Homo sapiens: one gene and its partner. The protein of the gene in region 1 interacts with the protein of each later gene in a pairwise test. Each region holds a gene or a part of one and is shown in the gene's direction. Other genes may lie near its edges.

What was found.
Region 2: the proteins of ZNF398 (region 1) and NDE1 interact in a two-hybrid assay, tested with the Homo sapiens proteins (one large-scale study listed by BioGRID).

The regions. Positions count from the first base shown.
Region 1 is NC_000007.14:149,150,336-149,154,151, forward strand, and holds part of ZNF398 (zinc finger protein 398), read left to right. Parts: intron 1-639; exon of another isoform or gene 640-908; coding exon of another isoform or gene 909-947; intron 948-3,609; coding exon 3,610-3,816. UniProt on the Homo sapiens protein: Functions as a transcriptional activator.
Region 2 is NC_000016.10:15,656,648-15,660,463, forward strand, and holds part of NDE1 (nuclear distribution protein nudE homolog 1), read left to right. Parts: intron 1-3,816. UniProt on the Homo sapiens protein: Required for centrosome duplication and formation and function of the mitotic spindle. Essential for the development of the cerebral cortex.

The DNA.
Region 1 (3,816 bases):
CACCTGTAATCCCAGCACTTTGGGAGGCTGAGGCAGGTGGATCACTTGAGCTGAGTAGTTTGAGACCAGCCTAGGCAATATGGTGAAACCCTGTCTCTACCAAAAATACAAAAATTAGCAGGGCATGGTGGTGTGTGCCTGTGGTCCCGGCTACTCGGGAGGCTGAGATGGGAGAATCGCTTGAGCCCATGAGATGGAGGTTGCGGTAAGCTGAGATTACACCACTGCACTCCAGCCTGGGTGACAGTGAGACCTCATCCCAAAAAAACAAAAACAAAACCCAACAGAATCTCAGTTTTCCTTACAGACCTACTGAATAAAAATCTGTACTTTGACAAGATCTCCAGGTGATTCTTCCCCGCCTCCCGCGCCCCCCCGCCTCCCCTCCTGCCCTAGACAGAGTCTTGCTCTGTCACCATGCTGGAGTGCAGTGGCACGATTTCAGCTCACTGCAACTTCCGCCTCCTGGGTTCAAGTGATTCTCTAGCCTCAGTCTCCCGAGTAGCTGGGATTACATGGCTTGCCACCACACCCAGCTAATTTTTGTATTTTTTAGTAGAGATAGGGTTTCACCATGCTGGTCAGGCTGGTCTCAAACTCCTGACCTCAGGTGATCCACCTGTCTCAGCCTTGCAAAGTGCTGGGATTACAGGCATGAGCCACTGTGCCTGGCCCCTCCAGCTGATTCTTATTCATGTTAGTTTGAGGACAAACTGTACTAAAAGCTGAAGGACTGTGCTGAGGCTTTGTAGTAGCCACTTTATGGAATGGGACAAGCGGCATGGAGGGCACAAGTCAGTGTTGAGATCCCCACTAAGCTTAGAAACCATTGGTATGTGGTGACAGCAGTTTACCTGGTGATTTCCTCTAGGCACGCTTACTAATCTGCTTACAGGAATGGAGAAAGAATGATTGGACTGATTCAAGGCCGGAGGTTAGCTGAGCAGGTGAGGCAGAAAGACATGAGAGAAGGGGAGTTGGAAGTGACTGATGTGATCAATTAGAGAAAAAAAGCCAGGAACGGGCAGATACCAGGAGCAAATGGAATGGTCAAAGGACTAGGTGAAATGAGAATAAAGTAGTGGGTGAGTTGGAAAGATGGGAGGTTGTCGTCAGAGAGTGGCTTATCAGGTTCATAGAGTTAGAAGGCTTTGTATACATCATCCTAGTCCAACTTATTTGTTGTGGGAATTTTTTCCTTTTATACTACTCTTTGTTTCAAAGTAAATTATTTTGGAGCAGCCTTTTATTTTCTTGGAAAGATCAATAACCCAGGAGTTATAGGTTACAAGGAGCTATGGTCATGTCAGTGCACTCCAGCCTCGGTGACCCTGTCTCTAAAAATAAAAAAATAAAAAAAAAATTAAGCTATAGAAGACATCCTGAGGTGGCTGGTTTGCATGCAAGCCTATTTATTTATTCATTCATTCAACAAAAATTTCTTTCTTTTTTTTTCTTTTTTTTTTTTTGAGACTGAATCTCGTTCTGTCGCGTAGGCTGGAGTACAGTAGCAGAATCTTGGCTCACTGTAACCTCTGCCTCCTGGGTTCAAGCAATAAGTGGATAACATTTAAACTATCCATCTTAGACTTTAAAATCATATATAAAATAATGTGGCCGGGCACGGTGGCTCACGCCCGTAATGCCAACACTTTGGGAGGCCGAGGAGGGCGGATCACGAGGTCAGGCTAACATGGTGAAACCCCATCTCTACTAAAAATACAAAAAATTAGCTGAGCATGGTGGCACGCTCCTGTAGTCCCAGCTACTCGGGAGACTGAGGCAGGAGAATCGCTTGAACCCAGGCAGCGGAGGTTGCAGTAAGCTGAGATGGCACCACTGTACTCCAGCCTGGGCGACAGAGCGAGACTCTGTCTCAAGAAATAAATAATTAATTAATTAATAATGTGATTTCCCTTAAAGATTTCTTTTTTTTTTTTTTTGAGACGGAGTTTCACTCTGTCACCCAGGCTGGAGTGCAGTGGCGCGAAGTTGGGTTGCTGTAAGCTCCGCCTCCTGGGTTCACGCCATTCTGCTGCCTCAGCCTCCGAAGTAGCTGAGACTACAGGCGCCCGCCACCACGCCTGGCTAATTTTTTCTATTTTTAGTAGAGACAGGGTTTCACCGTGTTAGCCAGGATGGTCTCGATCTCCTGACCTCGTGATCCACCCCCTCGGCCTCCCAAAGTGTTAGGATTGCAGGCGTGAGCCACCGCGCCTGGCCTAGATTTCTTTTTTTTTTTTTTTCTGAGACGGAGTTTTGCTCTTATTGCCCAGGCTGGAATGCAATGATGCGATCTCGGCTCACTGAAACCTCGGTCTCCTGGGTTCAAGCGATTGTCCTGCCTCAGCCTCTGAGTAGCTGAGATTACAGGCATCTGCCACGATGGCCGGCTAATTTTGTATCTTTAGTAGAGATGGGATTTCTCCACGTTGGTCAGGCAGGTCTCGAACTCCCGACCTCAGGTGATCGGCCTCTCAAAGTACTGGGATTACAGGTGTGAGCCACCCACCGTGCCCAGCCTCTTTTTTTTTTTTTTTTTGAGACACAGTCTCCCTCTGTTGCCCATGCTGCAGTGCAGTGGCATAATCTTGGCTCACTGTAACCTCCACTTCTCAGGTTCAAGCTGATTCTCCTGTCTCAGCCTCCCGAGTAGCTGGTGTTACAGATGTGCACCATCACCCGGCTAATTTTTGTACTTTTAGTAGAGACGGGATTTCACCATGTTGGCCAGGCTGGACTCGCACTCCCAAGCTCAGGTGATCTGCCCACCTCGGCCTCCCAAAGTGCTGGGATTACAGGCATGAGCCACCGCACCGGCAAGAATTTCTTTTTTTGAATAGTTCAACAATTATTTATTAGTGGGTCACAATGGCACACACCTGTAGCCCCAGCTACTTAGGAGGTTGAGGCAGGAGGATTGCTTGAGTGAGCCAGCCTAGGCAACATAATGAGACACCAAGACCCCGTCTCTAAAAAGAAAAAAATGTATTTATTGTAGGCCAAAGTTTGCCTGTCTGAAAATTTCGTTATGTTGGTTCTAGTTCTGCCCTCTGGAGTAACATAGTGTAAGATGAAACAAGGCTGTTCTGCCTTCTGTTTTGTAACCCTCATTATCTGAAAACAGCTCTCATGTTTTCTTCAGATTCAAGATTCTTAGCTTATTCAGCCATTACTGAATGGTGTGGTTGTAGTTTGTAAACAGGGTGATTGACAGGTCTAGAGCATAAGTCTATAATGGATTTATCAGAGGGCACTAGGTTCAGTGAGGCCTGGAAAGGATCCTTGTGCACATTTGCCTTTTCCAGAGATAGAGGATGCTGCAGCAACCTAAGCTGGGCCTTATAGCGGAGGAAATATACCAGACTAGTTCAAGAGCCAATTTCATTAATTCACTGTCTTACCCAATCTATCCCAGAACCACCAAATCAGGTCTCTTGGCTGTTGATGCCAGTGAGCTCCAGAAAGATGAGGCATACGCAGGCAGTACTAGAACTATATTCAAATTAATCTCTGCTGGACAGTTAAGCAGTCCTTATCTGATTTTAGTTTGGAGTTAGGGTTCCTTCTAACACTCAATGTCTTGTTCCATCTTTCCACTGCATGCAGACATCTGAATGGGACTCCGAGTGCCTTACATCCCTGCAGCCCCTTCCTCTTCCTACACCCCCAGCAGCAAATGAGGCACACCTGCAGACAGCAGCTATCTCTCTGTGGACAGTGGTGGCCGCCGTGCAGGCTATAGAGAGGAAGGTGGAGATCCACAGCCGGCGACTCCTACACCTGGAAGGTCGGACAGGGACAGCAGAGAAGAAA
Region 2 (3,816 bases), on another chromosome or scaffold:
CTTCTGTTTCAGCCTCCTGAGTAGATGGGATTACAGGCATGTGCCACCATGCCCAGCTAATTTTTGTATTTTTAGCAGAGATGGGGTTTTACCATGTTGGCCAGGCTGGTCTCGAACTCCTGGCTTCAAGTGATCTACCCGCTGTGGCCTCCCAAAGTATCAGGATTACAGGCATGAGCCACAGCACCCTGCCAGGCTTGGGTGTTCAAGGAAGAGAAAGAAGGCAGTGTGGCTGGGACATAAGTGAATGAGAGGTGGTAGGGTAAGAAATGTGTAGAAAACTATGCAGGGGCCTGATCACATTGGATCTTGCACATCTTTTTCCAAACCTCAGGAGGAGTCATTCTGCTTTTGTTGTTACTGGTTCCTCACTTCCGCACTTTATTGTATGCTGACAACCTTCCATACCATGGGACTGAGACTGCCCTCAATAGTATCACCAATGTCTTTTTTTGTTTTTTTTTTTTGAGGCAGAGTTTCACTCTTGTCGTCCAGGTTGGAGTGCAATGGCGTGATCTTGGCTCACTGCAACCTCCGCCTCCTGGGTTCAAGCGATTTTCCTGCCTCAGTCTTCCGAGTAGCTGGGGTTACAGGAGCCTGCCACCACACCTGGCTAATTTCTTGTATTTTTAGTGGAAATGGAGTTTCACCATGTTGGCCAGGCTGGTCTTGAACTCCTGACCTCAGGTGAACCACCCGCCTTGGCTTCCCAAAGTGTTGGGATTACAGGCATGAGCCAACGCACCCAGCCACCAATATCTTAATGGCCACACAGTGCTCATTGATAGATGCCTTGGCCCTGGGCTATTGTTGCTATAGAATTGGTTTGATGAGTACATATTACATGAGATCTGGGCTCATTAGAGCTTATGGCTTGAGCAGGGACTCCTTGGCCTAGGTTTATGCTGCTCCTGGCCTTGTTAATGACTGCTATTAACACTCTACCCCCTTTTTATTTTTTTGAGATGGGGTCTTGTTCTGTCGCCCAGGCTGGGAGGCTGGAATGCAGTGATCTTGGCTCACTGCAGCCTCCGCTTCTCAGGCTTAAGTGATTTTTCCTGCTTCATCCTTCTGAGTAGCTGGGACTACAGGCACGCACCGCCGTGCCCGTTTGATTTTTGTTTTTGTTTTTTTAGTAGACACGGGGTTTCACCATGTTGCCCAGGCTGGTCTCAAACTCCTGACCTCAAGTGATCTGTCTGCCTCGGCCTCACAAAGGGCTGGGATTACAGGCATGAGCCATTGCGCCAGGCACCACTCTACCCTTTTGACTTTGAGCAAGTAAGGTCGTTGATTCCATACATTCATTAAGATTCCTGCGTGGCAGAAATCTAACCCCAACTGGTATAACCAAGACAAGGAATTGATTATCTCATAACCTTAAATCAGGTGTGGCTGCATCTAGGTGTTCAAATGATATTGTCAGGACCCAGGCTCTCCATCCCTTGGCCCAGCTTTCCTCTGTTTTGGCTTCACTCTGAGGCAGGCTCTCCCTTGTGATAGCAAGATGACCACCGGCAGTTTCAGGCTTACCTCCGGCTTCAGGCTTACCTCCAGCTTCAGGCTTACCTTACCAACCCTAGTGGAAAGAGAGTTTCATTTTTGACAGCTATGCAAAAGGTCTGGACCTGGGCCCTCACTGGCTTAGTATGGGTTAGGCCCATCCTTAAGCCAATCATTGGCTCAGCATGGGTTAGATCCGTGACTGTCACTGGCTGAGCATGGGGGTTAGGCTCACCCTATCATTGGCTCTGCGTGAATTAGGCCCACCTCTGTCACTGGCTCATCGTGGGTTAGGCCCACCCATGAGCTGATCACTAAGGTCGTGAATAGGCATATGCCTCTTCCCAGGTGTGGAGGATGATGTCAGATCCCTCTGAACTCATGAAATGAGTAGGGTATTCTCCCAAGGGAATATTGTGCTGTCACAGAAGATGGAAAAATGAATGCATGTCTGGAAAAAACAAGCAAAACTACAAATCATTAGCTTTATATGACATTTATTTATTTTTTGTTTATATGTTTTTGAAATGGAGTCTTGCTCTGTTGCCCAGGCTGGAGTGCAGTGGTGTGATCGTGGTTCACTGCAACCTCTGGCTCCCGGGTTCAAGCGATTCTCATGCCTTAGCCTCCCGAGTAGTTGGGATCATAGGTGCCTGCCACCACACCCAGCTAATTTTTGTGCTTTTAGTGTAGACAGGATTTTACCATGTTGGCCAAGCTTGTCTTGAACTCTTGACCTCAAGTCATCTGCCTGCCTCAGCTTCCCAAAGTGTTGAGATTACAGGCATGAGCCACCACGTCTGGCCAGCTTTGTATGACATTTCGCCTTTCTGCCTTGATCAAACTTTCAGAGAATCTGCTTTCCAGAGGGATGAGTGGGTCGGGAAATAGCATGTTTTCTCTGAATGAGGGAAAGGATTGAAAAAGTAGGAGGGAGAAAGGATGTGAATATGAGTCCCAACAAATGCAGAGTTATCGGTAAGTTTTGTGCTTGAATCTAGGTACAATTGTGCATTTCCTGGTTCTGCATGAATTAGGCCCACCTCTGTCATTGGCTCAACATGGGTGAGGCTCACTAACTTCCACCAGAAGTTAGTGGTGGTGTCTGTGTTGACACTTACATGTTTAGCCTAATGATTTCATGTTTTAACCAAAACTATATAGCTTGTTGGTTATATCTTAGAAAGTGATGGTTTTTGCTCATTCTTTTGTCCCCAGGGATACACACCAGCCTCTAAGTTCTCTTGAGGGAAGGAAGGGACCTTGCACACAATCTTTTTTTTTTTTTTTTTTTTTTTTTTTTTGAGAGGAAGTCTCACTCTGTCACCCAGGCTGGAGTGCAGTGGTGCGATCTCGGCTCACTACAACCTCTGCCTTCTGGGTTCAAGTGATTCTCCCGCCTCAGCCTCCCGAGTAGTGGGGATTACAGGCGCACACCACCATGCCCGGCTAATTTTTATATTTTTAGTAGAGATGGGGTTTCAGTGTGTTGGCCAGGCTGGTTTCAGACTCCTGAGCTCAGGTGATTCACCTGCCCTGGCCTCCCAAAGTACTGGGATTACAGGTGTGAGCCACTGCGCCCGGCCTTGGACACAATCTTTTTTTTTTTTTTTTTTGAGACGGAGTCTCGCTCTGTCACTCAGGCTGGAGTGCAGTGGCACGATCTCAGCTCATTGCAACCTCCACCTCCTGGGTTCAAGCAATTCTCCTGCCTTAGCCGCCTGAGTAGCTGGGACTACAGGTACCTGCCACTGCGCCCGCCTAATTTTTGTATTTTTAGTAGAGATGGGGTTTCACCATATTGGCCAGGCTGGTCTCAAACTCCTGACCTTGTGATCTGCCCGCCTCGGCCTCCCAAAGTGCTGGGATTACAGATGCGAGCCACTGAGTCTGGCCTGGACACAATCTTACTTGGATTCCTCATGCCCTTTTGACAAGCTCAGAGCCTCAAATAAATTCAGAAAATAGGTGATTACATCAAACAGCCTCTATCAACAGGGAGTATACAAACCGTTAGCCCAACTGTTAATAGAAGTCTGCTTTCTTGCTGGGTGTGGTGGCTCACACCTAGAATCCTAGTGCTTTGGGAGTACAAGGCAGGAGGATCGCTTGAGCCCAGGAATTTGAGACCAGCCTAGGCAACATAGTAAGACCCCATCTCTTAAAAAAAAAATTAGCTTGGCGTAGTGGCCTATACCTGTAGTCCCAGCTAGTCAGGAGGCTGAGGCAGGAGGATCAGTGCCGCCTAGGAGTTCAAAGATGCAGTGAGCTATGATTGTGTCACTGCACTCCAGCTGGGTTGACAGATTGAGA